Linked DNA regions of Homo sapiens. The protein of the gene in region 5 interacts with the protein of the main gene of each other region in a pairwise test. Each region holds a gene or a part of one and is shown on either strand. Other genes may lie near its edges.

Evidence for each region.
Region 1: the proteins of RIBC1 (region 5) and RINT1 interact in binary tests that used the Homo sapiens proteins (3 or more experiments, as listed by UniProt).
Region 2: the proteins of RIBC1 (region 5) and GPSM1 interact in binary tests that used the Homo sapiens proteins (3 or more experiments, as listed by UniProt).
Region 3: the proteins of RIBC1 (region 5) and MPPED2 interact in binary tests that used the Homo sapiens proteins (3 or more experiments, as listed by UniProt).
Region 4: the proteins of RIBC1 (region 5) and TOX2 interact in binary tests that used the Homo sapiens proteins (3 or more experiments, as listed by UniProt).
Region 6: the proteins of RIBC1 (region 5) and CCNC interact in binary tests that used the Homo sapiens proteins (3 or more experiments, as listed by UniProt).

What each region holds. Positions count from the first base shown.
Region 1 is NC_000007.14:105,549,201-105,552,700, reverse strand, and holds part of RINT1 (RAD50-interacting protein 1), read right to left. Parts: intron 2,647-3,500; coding exon 2,536-2,646; intron 2,441-2,535; coding exon 2,215-2,440; intron 1,132-2,214; coding exon 994-1,131; intron 1-993. UniProt on the Homo sapiens protein: Involved in regulation of membrane traffic between the Golgi and the endoplasmic reticulum (ER); the function is proposed to depend on its association in the NRZ complex which is believed to play a role in SNARE assembly at the ER.
Region 2 is NC_000009.12:136,341,039-136,344,538, reverse strand, and holds part of GPSM1 (G-protein-signaling modulator 1), read right to left. Parts: coding exon of another isoform or gene 3,379-3,500; exon of another isoform or gene 2,701-3,378; intron 1-2,700. UniProt on the Homo sapiens protein: Guanine nucleotide dissociation inhibitor (GDI) which functions as a receptor-independent activator of heterotrimeric G-protein signaling.
Region 3 is NC_000011.10:30,534,354-30,537,853, forward strand, and holds part of MPPED2 (metallophosphoesterase MPPED2), read right to left. Parts: intron 1,823-3,500; coding exon 1,641-1,822; intron 1-1,640. UniProt on the Homo sapiens protein: Displays low metallophosphoesterase activity (in vitro). May play a role in the development of the nervous system.
Region 4 is NC_000020.11:44,050,852-44,054,351, reverse strand, and holds part of TOX2 (TOX high mobility group box family member 2), read right to left. Parts: intron 3,047-3,500; coding exon 2,807-3,046; intron 54-2,806; coding exon 1-53. UniProt on the Homo sapiens protein: Putative transcriptional activator involved in the hypothalamo-pituitary-gonadal system.
Region 5 is NC_000023.11:53,428,744-53,431,615, reverse strand, and holds the end of RIBC1 (RIB43A-like with coiled-coils protein 1), read right to left. Parts: exon of another isoform or gene 1,788-2,872; intron 1,763-1,787; coding exon 1,644-1,762; intron 1,221-1,643; coding exon 826-1,220; coding exon of another isoform or gene 822-825; exon of another isoform or gene 710-821; coding exon 628-709; 3' UTR 501-627; downstream 1-500. Other genes in the region: HSD17B10 (3-hydroxyacyl-CoA dehydrogenase type-2), read left to right, coding at 22-212.
Region 6 is NC_000006.12:99,558,661-99,562,160, reverse strand, and holds part of CCNC (cyclin-C), read left to right. Parts: intron 1-479; coding exon 480-564; intron 565-724; coding exon 725-794; intron 795-3,500. UniProt on the Homo sapiens protein: Component of the Mediator complex, a coactivator involved in regulated gene transcription of nearly all RNA polymerase II-dependent genes.

The DNA.
Region 1 (3,500 bases), on a different chromosome or scaffold from region 5:
CTCCATCTCAAAAAAAAAAAAAAAAAAAAAAAAAGGAATTATTTACTGACTGGGCTGGAATGATACTTCTTCAGGTTACCAGACAAGCCTAAGAAACGGACAGGCTAGTGGTTGACGAAGGTGAAGAGGGCCAGGGATGGTGGCAATGAGGGTCCAGTGGCACCTGGACAACAAGCAGGCCCACAAGGGGGCAACGTGATTGGCTAAAGACCAACCAGGGCCAGAGGATGCTAGGCTACCCTCCAGCCAGAGAATCCCTGCACTGTAACAAAAGTTCCTATTACTACTCCAATCCTTAAAATTACTTCATTATTTTACTCTCTTCTGCAATCTTTGATAAATCAAGATCAAGACAATATTTAAAATATAGGCCAATCACCATTTACTGAAGACACCTAAAAAGCCCAATAGCAAGACAGTTTGGATAATAAAATTAAATTCCTATTTAATTGTTTTTGTGTAATTATTCAGGAAGTTTTCCTTCATGTATACCAATGTTTAAATCCTTAAATTATTAAAAACCCAAAAGTTAGAATATTGTGTTAGATTTCTACCAATATAGAAACTGAATTTGAAGATAACAACCATCATATAATATTAATTTGCTGAGCCACTTATTTATTGATTACTTTATTGACAGGGTCTCACTCTGTCACCAAGGCTGGACTGCAGTGGCGTGATCATGGCTCACTGCAACCTCTACCTCCCATGCTCAAAAAATCCTCCCACCTCAGCCTCCCAAGTAGCTGGGACTACAGGCACACACCACCACAACTGGCTAATTTCTGTATTTTTTCGGAAGAGAGGGCATTTCACCATGTACCCCAGGCTGTTCTCGAACTCCTGGGCTCAAGCAACCTGCCCGTCTCAGCCTCTCAAAGTGCTAGGATTACAGGCATGAGCCACTGCACCCAGCCTACTGAGCTACTTTAAAAACTACCACGTGAAAACAGTACTTTTAAAACAAAGTCATATCTTAAAAGACATACTTACCAGTTATAACCAAGAGTAGAGTCATAAAAGTTTCTGCACAATCTGGAACTTTCATTTCATCCACGTCAGTGATATCCTTATATTGCGATACCCAGGCAGCTTCTGAGGAAAGCATTGAGTCCATTTTTTGAAGAGCAACTGATAAGCAGACAAAACAATTATGTCAATTAAGTAGTTACAGTCGTTCCTAATTATTCAACTTGTAATTTTTTAGGAATGATGGCTTTTCTATAAAAAAGAAACAAACCTACAATATCCCACTGGTTGTACTAAATTTAACTTAATTAATGCTTTAAACAGGATACTTTACTCCCATCCCCAAATTCTGAAAATAGTTATGTTGACTAGATAAGCTACAGTAAAAAATATTCTATTGGCCAGGCACGGTGGCTCACACCAGTAATCCCAGCACTCCAGGAGGCCAAGGTGGGTGGATTGCTTGAGTCTAGGAGTTCACAACCAGCTTGGGCAAAACCCCAGGGAAACCCCATCTCTACAAAAAATACAAAAAGTAGCCAGGCATGGCTTGCATATACCTATACTCCCAGCTACTGGGGTGGCTGAGGCAGGAGGATCACCTGAGCCCCAGAGGTCGAGGCTGCAGTAAGCCATGATCGGCCCACTCCACTCTAGCCTCGGTGACAAAGTGAGACCCTATCTCAAAAATAAAAAAATAAAATATTCTGACACTTTGGGAGGCCAAGGCAGGTGGATTACTTGAAGTCAGGAGTTCCAGACCAGCCTGGCCAACATGTTGTAACCCTGTCACTCCTAAAAACAGAAAAATTAGCCAGGCGTGGTAGTGCGTGCCTGTAATCCTAACTACTCGGGAGGCTGAGACAGGAGAATCGCTTGAACGCAGGGGGTGGAGGTTGCAATGAGCTGAGATCAAACTACTGCACTTTAGCCTGGACAACAGAGCAAGAGTCTGTCCCAAAATAAATAAATAAAAATAAAATAAATTATATGATAAAATCTATAAAACAAACACCCCACTGGCTTGACTATTCCACTCTAGAAATATGTAGAGTGTAATTTCAGGAAAAATGGAAGTTTCATGTGAAGTAAAGAAAAGATTATCTCTGAAGGAAACAGAAAACCCTGAAAAGGAAATTTCAAATGGCTCTAGTTCCTATTTAGAACTGGAGAAGAAAAATATCAAAAATGTATACCCACAGAAACAGACATATCTCCCTACCATCTGGCCACATCAGCACTTACATTTTCTCTCCACCGTCAACCATCTCTGAAAACAGGTTTCCTCTGATAGAATATGCATACAACTAGCAAAAGTGCCAGGATAGCCATGAACACTGTGTAGCTCCCTTTCAAACAAGAGTACTTCATCCACCAAATGACAGAAGAGATTGTCATCATATAGCAGACAAGGAATATCAGTGGCTAACTTCTCAAGAACCAGCATCATAAGGCCCCGAGAAAATTCAAGCTAAAAAAATACACAAACATGAGGTATGTAAATAAAAAGTTATCCATGCACACATACAGTTCTAAAACAGAAACACTTATGACTGAGTCTCTTACCCTTGCGTTTACCAAAGAGCCTACTTTGTCTAATATTGGCTGAATCTTCTCATCCAGAAATTCAGTATGGTTTCCAATCCACATAAGTACTTGAGCCAAGTACCATTCTGGCTAAGGAAGGAGGAAAATAGTTTGAATTCTTAAGTCATTCCAATTAGAAAGTTACAATTACATGGTTCTATTTAATTGTATATGCACAACACTTATAAAAATTAGTTGAAAATTCCTGTATGTAAGAGCACAATTTCTACTCCAAATTTTAAACTCCTGCAAGGCTTAATAATCAAATGTTTGCTAATGTACTCCCAACAAATTTCAATAATATGACTTAAGTCAATAAACTCATAAATTTACAATGCCATATATATTTAAAACCTAGCACTTCAATAATATGTAAAATGATGAGTATTACAAAGAACTGATGGCCTATATTTTTTGAAATAGCATTTGAAAATAATTTTAATATTATTTTCTTATGGTTTTTATTTTCAAAAAGTAAATCAAGAAAAAAATTGCTGGCCAGGCGTGGCAGCTCATGCCTGTAATCCCAGCACTTTGGGAGGCCGAGGTGGGTGGATCAGCTGAGGTCAGAAGTTCAAGACCAGACTGGTCAACATGGTGAAACCCCGTCTCACCTAAATATACAAAAATTAGCTGGGCGTGGTGGTGGGCACCTGTAATCCCAGCTACTCAAGAGGCTGAGGCAGGAGAATCGCTTGAACGCGGGAGGCAGAGGTTGCAGTGAGCCGAGATCACACCATTGCGCTCCAGCCTGGGCAACAAGAGTGAAACTTCGTTCCAAAAAAAAAAAATTGCTAGTCTGCATTACAAAAACTACGCATGTCTTATACAGGTTTAAGAGCAGAAATACCAAGTACATGCCAGGCGCAGTGGCTCACTCCTGTAATCCCAGCACTTTGGGAGGCTAAGTCAGGTGGATCACCTGAGGTCAGGAGTTCCAGACC
Region 2 (3,500 bases), on a different chromosome or scaffold from region 5:
AGAAGCCACCAGTGTTCTCAAGCTCCCCCTTCTTCCTCGCTGTCTCTGCTAGGTGAGGACACAACAAGAAAGCGCCGTCTGCCAGCCCGGAAGAGGCTCTCGCCAGCACCCGAGCACACAGCACCCAAACCCTGGCCTTCTGGCCTCCAGAGCCGTGAGGAGTAAACGTCTGCTGTTGCTGCCCCGGCCTGCGGTGCTTTGTGAGGGCAGTCGGAATGGACCATGATGGTCATCTCCCAAAGGTGCTGCAGCCTGCTTCCCCTGTTCCTGTCCGCGCCTCCCCTGCTCCTGTCTGCGCCCCACCCCGCTTCTGTCCGCGCCCCCACCCCGCTCCTGTCCGCGCCTCCCCCCGCTCCTGTCCGCGCCTCCCCCCGATCCTGTCCGCACCTCCCCCGTTCCTGTCCGCACCTCCCTGTTGGGCTTTTCTTTCTCCCAAAGCTCATCCCATGTGGCTCACTCCTGGGCTCCCCGTTCCTCACCTATCAGCTGCTGGACGCGGCTCAGCGGTCTTGGTGCCAGTGAGGGCCCCAGCAGTGCCTGGCACACGGCAGGAGCCTGGTGACCAAGCAGCAGGCATTTACTGTGTATCTGCTGCGTGCGGGACCCTGTGTGCCATTTCCCACACACTGTCCCCTCTGGGCCCTCTTAGGCGCACGGACAGAGGGTGCATCCTCCATCCCGGCGGCTGCCCAAGGGCCACTGGGCTGCTGGAACAGGCGGATGGTGCTGCAGCCACACCTGCCTCGTCCACCCAGGGCCCGAACGCAACAGGCTTACGGGCCCTCAGGCTCGCTGGCCTCTCACCCCTGCCAAGCTCTGTTCCCAGCACTACTGATGGGCCCGTTCCCCAGATGGGGACACTGAGGCACAAGTGGGTCAAGTCACTTGATCAGCTGGCCAGGGCTGGAGCCCACAGCCTAAACTGCAGGGGAGGTTATGCCATGCACATCCCTGACCCCAAGGCCACTCGTTGGGACGTTCAGGGGACTTCTCCCAGGAAGGCTGGTGGCATGCTCCCCCAGTAACTCTTGTGTACCGTGCTCACAACGCCCTGAGCAGGGCCCAGACGGTGGAGGGCTGAGAAGTACGGTCAGCAGGGCCGAGGGCAGTCGCACATCCTGTGGGACAGGCAGGGCCATCGGGGACAGGCCAAGGGCAGGGGGCGGTCCTGCAGGGCTCAGGGCCGGCTCCCTCCTCCCAACATGCCAATCATGCTGCCCGCACCAAGAGTGGCAGCAGAGCCTCCGTCCTGCCTGGCACCCTTGCTGGGGTGGGGGGTGGGCAGCCCAGGAGCAAGTGTGGGAGGCCCGGGCCTGTGCCCTCTGGCCAGGGAGGTGGGGGCTGGTTGCTGTCAGGGTCTCATAGAGGCCACACACCCAGAGGAGCTGGACAAGGGCAGTGGCTGGCAGGGTGGTGACCCCCAGACACACTTCTGGGGCTTCTCTGCTGGCTGGGGAGGGGCCAGCAGAGGGCGGTGAGATTAATACGCTGACTGAGCCGCGCCAAGGCTCTTTGTCCTCCAGCCGCACGTAAGTCTCCTTGTGTTTATCAACGGGACACCAAACCCACCAGCCTCTGCCACGCCCACCGCCCCCATGGACCACGCCCACAACAGCAAGGCCACGCCCCACCGCGTCCCCGCCGGGCTGAAGCCCCACCTCCAGACGACTTCCTCCTCCCTGCCCACACCCCGCTGGGCAGCGCCCTCCTGTGCCCCCAGCCCTGGCGCCCCCTCCGCACGGCCAGGCTCTAGCGCGGCTCTGCACCCCCCTCCCCTCCCGCAGCTCGCAGATCCACCCCGCCCTCCGCACCTGCCGAATGGGGAGGCTGCGTGGGTCCTTCCGTGGCGCCCCCAACCCGCAACGCCGGGTCCAGACTCCCGGCCTCAAGGCCCTGTCCCTGCCAGGCTCAGCTGAGCCGGGGTCTCACCCAGGGCCGCCCAGGCTCTAGGTGTGCAGCCTGCCTCCCACAGCGGCAGCCGGGCGGCGGCCCCAGCCAGGCTGCCGGGCTGCCCTGGGCGGGGAGGAGGACCCTTCCCCAGCCCTGGGGGAGGAGGCGTCCGGCCGGCTGGAAGGGGTCCCGCACTCGGGGCGGCACAGAGGAGCCAGAGAGGGACAGAAGCTGCATTGTTCCAGCGTCCTCCCACTCCGGCCCCCCTTTTCCTTGGCTCCAAGAAAGAAAACGTCGGGAGGACCCAGAGCCGCAGCCTCCGCGGAGCCTTTCCAGAGCTGCTCCCAGCCCTGCTGCCAGTTGCTGCTGGGGTCCCAGATGGTGGCAGTGCCGAGCCAGGGACACAGGAGGGTACTAGGGGTGCCGCAGGAGCTCTCGGCAGAGCTCCCCACCCTTAGGAAACCCCGGCCATGGGTAGAAATAGGCCTGGACATCCTGGGGGGCACATTCCAGCCCATCCCCTACCCACCCACTGCCATCGGTCACAGCACCTTGTCCCACGGACTCGCTGAGGGCCCCAGAGCCTCTGCTCCTTCCTCTGTCTTCAGCCTCTGCGGTGGCTGACATGCACCCCCAATTTCCCAGGAGAGGTCATCGTCAGAAACCCATGAGCACTGTGGCACAAAAACCCAGGGGATGGCTGGGCACGGTGGCTCACGCCTATAATCCCAGCACTTCTGGAAGCCGAGATGGGAGGATCGCTTGAGGCTGGGAGTTTGACACTGGCCTGGGCAACATAGTGAGGCCCTATCTCTATAAAAACATTTAATTATTAAAAATAAGATAAGAAAAAGAAACTCCGGCAGCCCAGCACCACATCCAAGCCTGGTGTTCCCAGCCTGGTCCTTAGCAGGCCTGGGGGGCACCAGGTACGTTCTGGGAGGCAGGCATCCCTTCTCGGGGGCTGGCAAACTCAAGACCTTTGGGAGTGGGGGACACATGGGTGGGGCAGCTGCTCCCCCCAAGCCTGCCCCTCACCCACCTGCCAGCCACCTCAGGAAGTCGGCCCAACCTGGCACCACCCCCCTGGCACCTATTAGTCTTTTCGCTTTGCAGGGGACGTTCTGTCCTGTGTCTGCAGCACTGCTGACCGGCATGGGACGACCAGCGGTCCATGAATGAGGTCACCACGGTGGCCTCGCATGGCCTTGGGCCTTGCCTGATTACTGCCCCAGGCACATAGGGCTCCCACAGCCCAGCCCAGCCCAGCCCAGCCCAGCCCTCTGGCTGATGCCCTCTCGCCTCCCAGCAGCCCTCTCCTACTTGGGTCTGAGGACAGAAGCCCTCCCTGCACCGAGGGCTCCAGGGGGAGGTGGGGGTGGAGGCCCTGGAGCAGCCAGTGGGGCAACAGGCGACCACCTCCTGTCCTTCATCCAGCAGCCCTGCAGCGCCACTCAGGATGCGGGTGGGAAGGGCTCAGGGTGAACCTCAGGCCTGTGCTGTCCCTGAGGCCAAGAAGAACTGGCTTGTAGGCGCCATTTTCTGGCGGCTGCCACCTCCGCCATGCTGGCCTGGCCTCGATCCCACCCCTCCGCAGCTCCTGATGCGGT
Region 3 (3,500 bases), on a different chromosome or scaffold from region 5:
AATAAAGAGATTATTGTAGAGAAAAAAGACATAAGCGAAAAGATCTGGATTTAGAACCAACTCTGCCACTATGAAACTGAAAAAATCACTTAACTTCTCTACATCTCTGTGTCATCTGTAAAAATGAGATTATGCTAAATAATATTTAAAATATCTTGCCATTTTAAATAACATGATTAAGTACCTACTAAAACAGCACAAAATATAAATGCTCCAACATCCAATGCTGCCAAGACCATGATAAAACTAGTACCTATACATTCATTCACTGCTAGTGAAACACACAGCTACAGTGCCCTTGAAAAGCAACATGCCAACATGTAGCAAAAACCATAAAGAATTTCATATCCTTTGACTTAGCAAATTAAGTATAGTATTTTTCCCTAAGAAATAAATCAATAGAAACAAAACGACATACACAAACAAAAATGCACATTTCAGTGCTAGCTACCAGAGGAAAAATTGTTATCAATTTAAATGCTCATTTTTAGAGAGATGTCTTATTAAAGAAAGGCATAGCCAACCATATGAATGCCATGCTGCTATTAAAAAGAATATGAAAATTATGCAAAAACGTTTTAAGTCTTACCAATAAATACTATTAAATGAAAACAGCCAAAAGTCAAAAAGCAGATATGTACTCAGATGTCAACCATACAAAATGTGAACAGATGAGCAAAGTCACATGAAAAATCAAAATAATTATGTTATTAGTTAAGTTTATTGCTTACAATTCTAAAATATCATCTTTCCACTAACACGTCTTATCATTTAATCGAAAATTTAAAAAATTTTCAAACCCTGCTTTAGTTTGATGGAAAACAAAGTTGTAATGTTTTTGCCTAAATCTCCCAAGTTATTTTTGTTGGCTGACATATTATTGACAATGTTACGCTCCCAGAGTGACGTCTGCTCTTTACTATATAATTCTTTCGTCTTTAGGGATTCTAAAATCTCAGAACATTTGCACTTCTTTCCCTCCGCTAAGAGGAACCAGGATCCAATATTTTGCAGTAACTGACCTGTGGGTGCCTCCACAATATCCAGAAAATTGCTATTATCCTTTTTACAGGACACAGGGCAACTTCACATCCCAAGTTTTTACTTTACAGTAATATATCTCATGTTTTCAGGGGTCTAGAACACCCTCCAGCTCACTTAGGAAATCCGCTCCCAAGCAGCACTGTGCTATAGGAATTTTGTTTCATATAAGGACTTTTATAACCCCTTCATTTCTTAGAAATGTTCTCTTACTAGTAGGTCATTTGTATATCTTTGCTTATAATATCTGGGGAAAAAAAGATTGCAGAGCCAATGAATTAAAAATATGATTCTAGGTCTCCTGTGTGCCAATGAATGCCCTCATTAAAGCAGAATGAGTGAGATGAGATGGGTTTCAAAGCTTTCCATCCCTTTGCCCCAGAGCCACCAAGGCCAGGCACTGAAAGGATGCACAGTAAAATTAAATATCTAAAAATTCATCTTTAATTAACAGAATTGGATTAAAGCTAGACACCACCGCATATCATACGAGAAATGGCTGAGCTGGCTTCCAAGTGCTCTAATTCAATTAGGACGCAGTGAGTGACACTCGGACGGGAAAGGTTAATTGGGGCCGCCAGAACGCAATCATTCCTTACCTAACCAGTCATTAAACTTCTTAACCTCTGAGGGCAGTCCCAGCTCGGTGAAATCGCCTGTGTGGAGAAGGATGTCCCCATAAGGCATCTGGATACCATCTGTTCTGGAGTGTGTGTCTGAGATGCAGACAAACCGCGTGTGGCCCGCTGGTTTTGGAGTGTCATATGGGATGGGGTCGACCCTAAAGTAGACATAACAGATCCCATAACAGTTAAACATATTAGAACCCTTGAAATTGTCGTCGCACATACATATTTATTATTATTCGTGAATGCACCCAGACAAACTGACGCAAAGGCAGAAGGGCCCACTGTAATTAAGGACACTTCTGGGTGTAACAGAGACAGCATCACCCATTTACAAACCCACTGGGCAAATTCAAAAGGACTTACTTACCTGGTAGGAAAATTAAAAGGAATGAATATCTTACATATAGATCTGAAATAACCCAGGAAACTGATAGAGTGATTAATGGTGAAGTTTAGGGATACTGAACCTCAACTGGGGAAGCAAAATTATGCTATTTCTCTCTCATCATGCTCCAATTGATCCCACTACTCATTAGGAAATAGATAACTAATTTATTCCTTCTTAAACATGCATAACTTAAGCAATGAACTAATTTACAGAGAGCAGTCTGCACATGCTCTGCCAACTGAGATGTGGAGAGATAGCACTTATATTTAATTTCCTTTCCACAACCATTCAACACCTGTATCTTCTGGTTTTTGCTATTCACAAATCAAACCGTAGGGAGAGAAGGTGATGCCAAAATAACAGAGCTTTAAAAATTAAAAAAAAAAAAAGACACTGGATGTTAAAAGAACTTTGTCAAACTCGTTTTTACTGCGATGAATTATCTGCAGTCCCAGTTACACCTGAGGTTACCAGGAATGCTCAAATGCCTTGGGCAAAGATTCTATTCAGTACAAATATTAAGCCTTTTAATGGGATGTATATATCTACATATACGTTAATATATGTATAGTTTTAGAGACCTAAGCACTGTGAAATTACACCAGGGCATAAGAATCAAAAGGCAAAATGATCAACCCAAAGCAAAGAAAATGAAACAGAACATCCTCATTTAATTGAGTGTAACAAAGTGTACTAAATAAACTTGGTAAAGGAATGCAAATCTGACTCTTCAAGCATACAGTTTTAATTATTTAAGGGGTTTGTCGCAGAGTTAAGGATGCTTTAACTATATTAACTCTACACTGACAGCCTCCTTTAATTTCTCTGTAGGAATGTACACTTATTTTCGGATTATAGGTGAAAAGAAGCAGTTATAAATGCAAAGAGAAGGTCACAAGAGAAGCAAATATGCAATGCAGAGATTAGAGTGTGAAACATTAAATAAGGAACAATATTTCATATCCCAGCCCCAACCCTTGATAGTTAACATGCAGCAGAGAACACACTGAAAGCTCCACACAAGACTCCCTAAACATATTGCCTCTACAGGCTTTGTTTAATTTGTTTTCTCTTTTCCTTTATTTATTTATTTTCTTAAAGAAACAATCTGTTTTAACAATGACAATTTCAGTGAGGGAAATAGAAGAGATCAGTGTGCAACCTGGATAGTCCCACATTTCTTCAATGACTAACCTTTTTATTTCCTCTTATCTGTGTCGGAGAAGGAAAGTAAGAGGAGCAAGAAGGAAGGGAGGAAAGGAGGAGAGTAGGGAGGAAGGAATTGTGAACTGGTTATCACAGTGGGTCTAATTGGAAGCCCAAAAAGAAAGTTTAACTTCCGCAAAAAATTAATGGATTTTTTCTGTTAGAAAGGTTAGAAATTAATATGCTGTTACCACGTAGAAAATTCACTAATCCACTGTGATCTCATTAGTAACCTG
Region 4 (3,500 bases), on a different chromosome or scaffold from region 5:
GGGTTCTTGGCCTTTTTTCCTGGGTCGGCTGAAGGTCTCTTTTCTCCCGAGATCTGCCCGAGTGAGAAGAGTCAGAAAACCAAAGAAGCCCAAGGGCCTCCTGCCAAAGGCGATCAACACAGACTTGGGCCGAGCTGCACTTCTCCAGCCCTGCTCATGCACAGATAACCACTCGCGCGATGGAGGGGGCAATGGACAGACAGACACACACACCCTGGGTGGGTGTTTAACTCATTAAAGAGAATCAGCATGATTGTAAAGTTGATTCAGAGAAATGCAGGAGGAGAAGACGGACTGTATAGTCACTGAAAGAATGGAAAGAATGCTGGAATTAGATTACTAAATTACACGTGAAACTGGTTAGTGCCCAATAGAGCGCTGAAACTATCACCTTTGGGACTTTTAATCTTTTCTACTGGACAGAAATTTGCATCTCTACCGGGCAAAGTTAATTTGCCTTATAATCAGACAAAAATCCCTTACATCTCTTATCACTTCCCCTCCCCCGCCCAAGGTAACATCTTCTTTTACAGAGTTGTGAAATCCCCTAATCAATAGTGAATAATGAATCAAAGCAAAGGTCCAGTTTCCTAGGGAATCAGATAATTATTGAGTGAGCCTGTTAGCCAAGGCTTTGGTATGACATTGAAAGAATGTGCAGTTATTTGGGGGCCTATTTCCAAGTTTGGAGTGTGTGTGCATGTGTGTATATGTGTATATACGTGTGTGTGTGTGTGTATATGTATATATATGTGTGTGTATATATAGTATATATATGTGTGTGTATATATAGTATATATGTATATATATAGTATATATGTATATATATGTGTATATATAGTATATATATGTCTGTATATATATGTGTGTATATATATATGTGTGTGTGTGTGTGTGTGTGTGTGTGTGTGTATATATCTGCCCTCCCACTTGTGAGCACAATCCCCAAAAAGGATCCTGCATTACAAAAGGCTGGTCTCCACCGCCATGTTTCAGCTGTGCAGCTTTGAGCAGGTGGCTTAGTCCCTTGACCCTGTGAAGTGGGGAGGGCACGAGGCTAAAGCGACTGTTACTGCGTCAGCCCTGGAACCAGTGGCTTCACTCTGGACAGACTGCAGGACCATGATCCTGTGAACACTTGACTTAGGGCTTCCAGGATGGGGTGGTGTTGGGATGCCCACCACAGACCTCAGTGGGTCTCTGTTGGGTCACTCAAGCCATGTAGGAACAGGGGACTTTGGTCAAAAGCCCTGGACCCTGTAGTGAAGACTCTGGCTCTAGGAGCCAAGAAGATGGAGGTGACATGTTGACCTGATGACAAAGCCATGGGCCAGTAGGCATGATCAGGCATCCATGTCTGAAGGACATGGTTCTGTTCCTGAGGCTTATCTCTGCAGCTACTCCCTTCTCCAAGCCCCAGTTGTGTTAGCACCGTGGTGTGACCCTAGCAAGATCAGGGATGAAGAGGCATGTTGTCATTGATAAAGTCCTGAACAGGCACAGCAGGGCAGGGGGTTGAGGGCACATACACTGGACTGCACCTGCAGCCTCCTGGGTTTGAATCCTGGTTCCCCCCACTTACTAGCTGTGTGACACCAGATACATTACTTAACCTCTCTGTGCCTCAGTGTCCCCATCTGCCAAACAGAGATAATAACAGTCCCTGCCCTATAGGACTTTTATGAGGATTACATGGACGTATACTTGTTATGTGTTTAGAGCAGTGTCTGGCCCATAGAGAGTGTTTGTTAAATAAAAACCGTTCCTGCATGGACTATAATAGAGGTCGAGTCATCCTTAGGATGAAGCTGGGCCAGGATCCAGAAGTAAACCCCTCTTCCCCCAAAGTCCAGGGTTACTGCCCTAGGCCTCGGGAGGCCACCACGTGGAAAGGACACTGGATCGACAGAGGCAGGAGGCACGGAGGGAGATAAGTCTTAATTCTGCCACTAGCTCGCTGGGAGGCCCTGGGCAAACACTTCTGTCTTTGGCATTTCTGGGCCTCTGTTTTCCTCCCTGGTAAGACAAGATGTTCTCTCACCGGGAGGTGGATTTGGAGTCAATGCAAAGAAGGGCCAGAGCCCGGACAGGTGGCGGGCTCTCATCCCTACCATGTTCTTGAGGAGGTCAAACCACTCTAGACTCCAGGAATGTTGGGGGAATGCATGTTCCCAGTGGGGCGGTCATTTTTGCACCCCACCCTCAAGGTCAGTGAATACTCTAGGCCCAGAGGTGCTGTCTTCTGGACCACACAGTTTTGTCAGAATATTTTCTCCTAAAAGGGCCAAATGGCCATAAATGTGACCCCGATGGCCTTGCTGAAGCCGTCCACACCTCTGAAATCGCCCACTGGCCTTCAGGAGTCAGTCTTTGCCAACTTTCACAGGATCTTCTCACCCCATCCCCTCAACATTTGTTGGAATTTTCTCTGCTTTACGCACAAGGCTGTGGGAGCCCCGAGGGAACACAGCTTGTCAAGGACGCTCAGCACTTGGAGCAGCCAAAGCCCGATGCCACAAAGCCCCATAGGTGCCATCCCCCCTGACCAGGTGCTCCACCTGCCAATGTGCTTTTTCCTTGGCTTCCAGCGTGGCCTGGGGGTCTTAACAGAAAACCACTGAGCTCTGTGGCGGACATCCCAACCGCCACCAGGAACGCCTGCTCAGTGGGAATGGCACCTACGGGGACCTTGGGACATCAGGCTTTTCTAGTCTTTACTAGAGGGAGGTGATGCCCATTTCCCCACAGGACCCCTTCCCTGCCGACAGGAGGGCAGCTTCAGGCTCTGTTCCTCCACCGCACATACCTTGAAATGCACTTCCGACTCCTCTTCCTGAGTGGAGCTGGAGGGAGAGGGGGTCGCTGACTTGCTCCCCGGCGGTGATGGGGAGCTGTGGGCGATGCTGCTCCGGATGCCCATCTGCGAGATGAGCTGGGACTGGCTGAGGGCACTCATGTGGCTGGCCAGCATTGCCGGGCGACCCAGCAGGGGCCCGGGCCGGCCCGAGTCATAGGCAGCCACTTCCGAGTGGACCATCTCCTGGATCTAAGAGAGGAGGACAGGAGGGTTGAGTTAGGAAGGATCTGTCCTGCCACTCCATCACATCTGTGCTAGCGGACTTAGAGGAGGGAATGCAGAGGAGAAGTGATGGGTGCGGCTCCTGCTCCGATCCCTGACAGGTGAATCTCAAGATGGAGCCTCATGCTACTTGGACCTCTGTATGATTAAGTGCACTCGTGGGAAACCGGCAGCTCCGTGGCTGTGTGCCATTCTACTGACATTCACCTCGGACAGACGCTTTGCATTTCAGCCCCTGCCAGAGAGCTCAGTCCAGTTATGTTGGATCATTTGATGAGACCGAGTCTTCCCTCCTGGAATGCAATATGTCTCTGCATGAACTGAGCAGTCAGCATGATAGCAACGCACACAGATGCTGGACGACGCTAACTACATTTTGAATCCTGGTCCTGCCATTCTACCAGCTGGGTGACTTTGGCCA
Region 5 (2,872 bases):
GAATTTGGCTATATTGTTTAGGTCTGTTTGGCACCCCACTGCTGACCAGCCTCCCAGAGAAAGTGTGCAACTTCTTGGCCAGCCAAGTGCCCTTCCCTAGCCGACTGGGTGACCCTGCTGAGTATGCTCACCTCGTACAGGCCATCATCGAGAACCCATTCCTCAATGGAGAGGTCATCCGGCTGGATGGGGCCATTCGTATGCAGCCTTGAAGGGAGAAGGCAGAGAAAACACACGCTCCTCTGCCCTTCCTTTCCCTGGGGTACTACTCTCCAGCTTGGGAGGAAGCCCAGTAGCCATTTTGTAACTGCCTACCAGTCGCCCTCTGTGCCTAATAAAGTCTCTTTTTCTCACAGAGTGTAGGCAGTGTTGTGTGCTAGGGGGCCTGGCATGGGGAAGAAATGTGAAGGCTGTGACAGGGTTGGATGCTCAGAGCTCCAGGGTGGGGTGGGAAAGGCAGTACCTTCATAATACTTTGTGTCCTGTTACAACATGTGGACTTGATTTTGAGTGCAGAACTTTATTACCTAGGTTAGAAGGTGGGAGTATGCAGCATTTTTCTCTTTGACTCCTAACCACCTGTGAGCTTGATGGAGGAGAAGGGAGAGAGAGATAGACATCCTGAACTTAGCGGCTGCTGGTGTTAAACTGCTGGTGATACTGGGCTGTAGGTTGATTGGTGTAGATTACTGAATTCAGGTAATCCTGCCTGTGAAAGAAGTCCAGAGGTCTCAGCTGACATGCTTTCCCTCTCTCCATGGTTCCTCACCATCCCTCCTCTCCCTCCCTTGGCATTTATCTCCACCACTACCACCTAGAACTCACTGGGCTTTTTGCTCATTAGCCAGCTGCTGGTTGAAGGATCCTAGACCCCTTTGAAATACAGCACACAATTCCCTCTCCTGCTCTTCTAGCTCCAGCACTGCCTGGGCTGAGCTCATGGTCTGGCTTTTCCATTCAGTATCCAGTGTTTTCTCAGCCTGACGGTGTGCTTGCTTCTTAGAGCGTTGTACTTCCTGCTCTTTCCTGATGGCAGCTTGCTGCTCTGGAGTCATGCCCTTCCAGCAATAGGGCAGGACCCGGTAGGGAGCCATAGGGTGTTGGGCGACCTGGGGGTTTTCAGTCAGTAGGTCACTCGTGCTCTGGTGCTGGATCTCCGCAAGGTTGGCCTTCTGTTCACGCTGACGCTCACAGCGCTGACGCCCAGCCTGCACAGCTGCCTGGTGGAGCCCCCAAATGCAAACATTTGGGTGCCCAACCTCAGGGAACTCTGTCACAGGGGAGGGGGGAACATGGCCCTACTCTTCCATCTCAAGGAGAAAGAACAGATACTGCATGGCCTTTCAATGCCCCTAATATGTGTTGGGGAGAATGGGCAGGGAACTTCTCTGCCTTCAGGAAGCCTTTAGACTGGGAAGCGGAGGATGAGAGGGCAATGTTCTATTCTCAAGTCATCCTGCTTCTGGAGGTGGGGAGAAGTGACTTGTACCCTAAGAGGGGCCTTCAGTGAAGGGGGAGTACTCAGATGAGAGGGCTGATGCTGATTTAAGAGGGGATGTAAGAGGAAGAATATGGCTAAGGTTCTCCAGGATTTTGTTCAGGAGTTGGGGAGAGCCCAAGGTACTGCATGGCTCAGGCCATACCTGCGCTTTGTTGGCGTTGGCCATGGCACACATCATGGCCGCACGACAGGACTCCTCCAGCCTGGCCAGATGGGTGGCCTGTGCATCCATGGCGAGGCGCAGCTGGTTACTGAGCGCATCTACACAGAGAAATATGGCCGGGGTACTGTACTGGCTTGCTCCATTCCTGTTTCACTCATCCAGCCATTTGTTCAGCAAGTTTTGTGTTTGTGTGTGTACGAATGTTTAGGAGGGGGTTAGTGTCCGAGTTGTAGGGATGTGGAAGGAACTAGGTGCAGCAACAACGATTTCTCAAGCGCATAACTAAAAGATGCCTCCAATGGACCTGGGTCCCAATGTCAGTTCTGCTGCTTCTGAGCTGTGTGATTTTGGGTAAATCATTTCATATCTCTGAATCTCAGTCTAAGGGCCATGTGCTGGGTTCTAATGATACCATCGAATTAAATCCTGTCCTCAGAGAACTCCCTGTCTAGTTGGGGACACAGATCAAACATAGACCACAATCTGGCAAGAGCAATGGCAGGGATGTACACAGGGTATTAAGAGGGTTTTGGATGGTGGAAAAGAGGAAGGCTTCCAGGAAGAGGTGATCCTTGAAATACATTTTGTATACAGGCTAAAAGAGCAAAGGGCATTCCAGGCTGAGGGCATGGCATGAGCAAAGGTACTGACAATTTTTTTCTGCTCCAGCCACACTGAGCTCCTTGCTGTTCCTAAGACCTGTCAGACACTGTACTATGCAACTGGGAGATGGGTAGACATGAAAGAGATGGTTCATCTTCAGTAGGCTGACATTTTAGGGAGAAGACAGATATTAAACAAATACTTTCACAATTAGCTACAACTACAATAAGTGGTCCAGCAGAACAGAGTGCTGTAACAGGGTTGATGTGAAGGGTGAACAGTGCAAGTAGATAAGACATGGTCCTTGCCCTTGAAGGGCTTCTTCTAATGGAAGAGAAGGATGTGGCCACAGACAATATCATAATAGTAGCTACTCTATGTGGTATAAATTATTATTCTCATTTTAAAGATGAAGAAACTGAAGCACAGAAGGGAAAATTCATTTGCCCAAACCAGCTAGTAAGTGGCAGAGCCATTAGGTCTGTCTGCACTGTGCTGCCTCCACGTAATGGAGTGCCAAACTAATCAAGAACAATGCTACACTGTCAGTTACTGAAGGAAGTCAGGGAGGTTGGGGTCTGCACAACCTAACATTTCAGCACCAA
Region 6 (3,500 bases), on a different chromosome or scaffold from region 5:
TTGAACCTGGGAGGTGGAGATTACAGTGAGCCAAGATCGTGCTACTGCATTCCAGCCTGGGCGACAGAACGAGACTCTGTCTCAAAACAACAAAAAAAGTGGTAGTATTAACAAGTTTCATAGGTGTCTAATATTTTCTTTTTATATTTATTATAAAGATACTATGAAAAGCATTAAAAATATTTAGAAGATAGAGGGGAAATATTTATTCAACTTCCTTAATGGATGAATAATTTTTTCCTGTGGGGCAATTTCTGTTTTGTTGTTGTTTTGTTGTTGTTTATGCATACCTATATATTTCTTAACACATTTGCAAATCCTAGAATTAGACCACTGTGACTCACATAGAGCATGTGTAGGTTTTTTCCTTTGTTAAAAATGAACATAATTATGATTTAACCACATGGAAGTTACTGTTCAATGTTAATATTATAATGATACCAGAAGATACATTTAAAATTTCATTATTTGCCTTTTAGTTATCCAAGCATTAGGTGAACATCTTAAATTAAGACAACAAGTTATTGCCACTGCTACGGTATATTTCAAGAGATTCTATGCCAGGTAGGATTGTTTTTATTTTATTTATTTGAACTCTTATCTAATGTTGATGAACCTTAGCACAGTGTAAATGAATCATGTGTCTACCATAGAGTTATCTTGATTTTTTTCCCAGTGTGTTTTCTGTATGAATGATATTTAACTTTGTTTTATCATATTTTAGGTATTCTCTGAAAAGTATAGATCCTGTATTAATGGCTCCTACATGTGTGTTTTTGGCATCCAAAGTAGAGGTATAAAACAATTTTCTGTTCTTCATCAAAGTGTAGTCAATGTATGTTGGTTAATCTGCCCCAGTTTTCACATGGCCTATGTAAAATTAATAAATGGTAATTTATGCAAAATACTAAAATTGTACAAAATCAAAGAAATATATACATATCCTTATATATTCACTTAACAGACACATACAGCACTTACTGTGTACCAACTGACTTAATCTTTGTAACAAACTGGAATACATAGTAGTAGTATTCCCATTTTATAAATGAGGAAACTGAGACAGAGATGAAGAACTTGCTTAAGATGATATAGCTAGTAAGTGTGAGAGCCCGTGTTTGAACCATGGGAGTCTCGTTACCAATCCTGTGTTCTTAACTACTTTCCTCTGCTGCCTTTGAGACATCTATTGTTTGGCACTGAGTAGTATTCAGTAAGTACCACAGCTTGCCTACCATAACCTGAGAATGTCCCTTATGCTTCTCACCCATATGCTTATCTTCTCCTGTCTTCCCTCCCATCATCCTGATGATTGGCTGCCTACCAAGCCAGAAGGAAGGCAAGGATTAGGGGAAGCTATAGCTATATAGAGTCTAACAAGTAAAAGTTGAGGTTGTGAGCGTAGAGAAATTAGGTAAGGGAGAGAAGATAGATAGGAACTTGCGGCAGAGACTGAATTTCTGTTCAACTGTTTTACCTTTGTAGTATTTTTGAAAGAGCTCAGCTAAAGTCCAGAAAATAATAGCAGATATTGGCTGTTTTTCATAAATAATGTAGTCTTTGGTGGTGTGAAATCTTTGCATTATGTTTCTATTTTTGGATAATGTCTTAGAGTTCTATTCTTAGAGTTGTATTCTTGAATATTGAATGTGATTTTTACCTAGTAAGTTTACATTCCTTTTGGCACCCACTTTGATTTAGTTTTGTTTTAGCCATGATTTAAGGTTATCCATGACATCTTTCCCAACTGTTACCTAAATAATGACAATTGACTCTGTTAGAAATAATATTAAGACAAGCTTTCTAGAAGTTTATGTTTTCTAATTGTGAGTGGTAGTTTAAGAAGGCAGAATCAGTTAAGGTCCTTATTATGGATTGAGTTTTCTAATTCTAATAATTCTATGTAATATTTGATTTTATTTAAATATTACCATGTAATAATTTAAAGTCTCTTAAGCACAGGCAGTATGGAGGACCAAGACAAAAAATCTTTATAAACATTTAATCTTGTAGATTAATTTGAGGATTTTAATCTATCTTACTTGTTAAATATTGTTATGTGATTTACTGAGTAGAACTCTGTGATGTGATTTACTGAATGAAAGTTTTCCCTTTGAGTTTTGGATAAAGAATTATTCCTAGGCCGGGTGTAGTGGCTCACACCTGTAATCCCAGCACTTTGGGAGGCTCAGGCGGGTGGATCACCTGAGGTCAGGAGTTTGAGACCAGCCTAACCAACATGGCAAAACCCCGTCTCTACTAAAAATACAAAAATTAGCCGGATGTGGTGGCAGATGCCTGTAATCCCAGCTACTAGGGAGGCCGAAGCATGAGAATTGCTTGAACCCATGAGGTGGAGGTTGCAGTGAGCCAAGACTATGCCACTGTACTCCAGCCTGGGTGACAGAGCAAGATTGCATCTCAAAAAAAAAAAAAAAAAGAATTATTCCTGAGAAAGAGAATGTAGTCTTTCAGATTTGGTCGTAGCATTATTATTATTTTTTTTTTATCTCTGTGACCAAATCTTTCTGTATTTTCTCTAGTTTTATGGAAATTGTATGGAAAGCTCATTTAAGAACATGTCTCAGGCTTTTACTTTTTCTTTTCAGTTATTATAGTTGGAGGTTTAAATGTAAAACAAATATATTAGTACACATACATTTCCCCTACACAGGATAAGGATGTAGGCTGAAGGTATTTAAATAGATTTTTAGTTTAGCTCCTTTTGTTGGATAAGAAACCAACTCTTGATTTTTTTATTTTAAAATGAAGTGAAGGCTTTAGAAATCTTACGAGGCAATAAATGAAACAGTATATATAAGGTGGATCATAATAAATTTTAGTATTTTCACAATGGTGGTTGTTCAGTTGAAAGAGGAAATGGGAACTGACTTTGGAAGTCTTACGTAATTCCTGTCTCCCTGTTCTAAAAAGGATAGTAACTATTTATATGGTTTTTTTTTTTTTTTAGTTCTTTTGGTGATTAATTAAGGTTTATCTTATTCACAAATTCAACTGTTTTACCATAGAATGGCATGAAGTATCTGTTAATACAGGTTGAATTGAATAGGAAACATACTTAATATTCTTGCAATTAAGTATAGAATGTAAACAATCTTCTTGGAAACTAATTTAAATGGAAAAACTGACACTGTAACCTTAAGGCTTGGTTTCTAATTTGGTACCTTTTATTGTTATTAAATTATAAAATTATTTTAAAATATGTCTTAAGTTGTAGCAATTTGGGGGAGAGGTAATACAGGCAGAATATCCGTAATCTGAAAATCCTAAATGCTCCAAAATTTGAAACGTTTTGAGGGCCAACATGACATTCAAAGGAATGCTCATTGGAACATTTTGCATTTCAGATTTTTAGATTAGGGATGCTCAACCAGTGTAATGCAAAATATTCCTAAATCAGAAAAATCTCTGATCCTAAGCATGTCAGATAAGGGGTAATCAGCCTGTACATTTAGGAGTGTAAGTACTTCACACCTCAA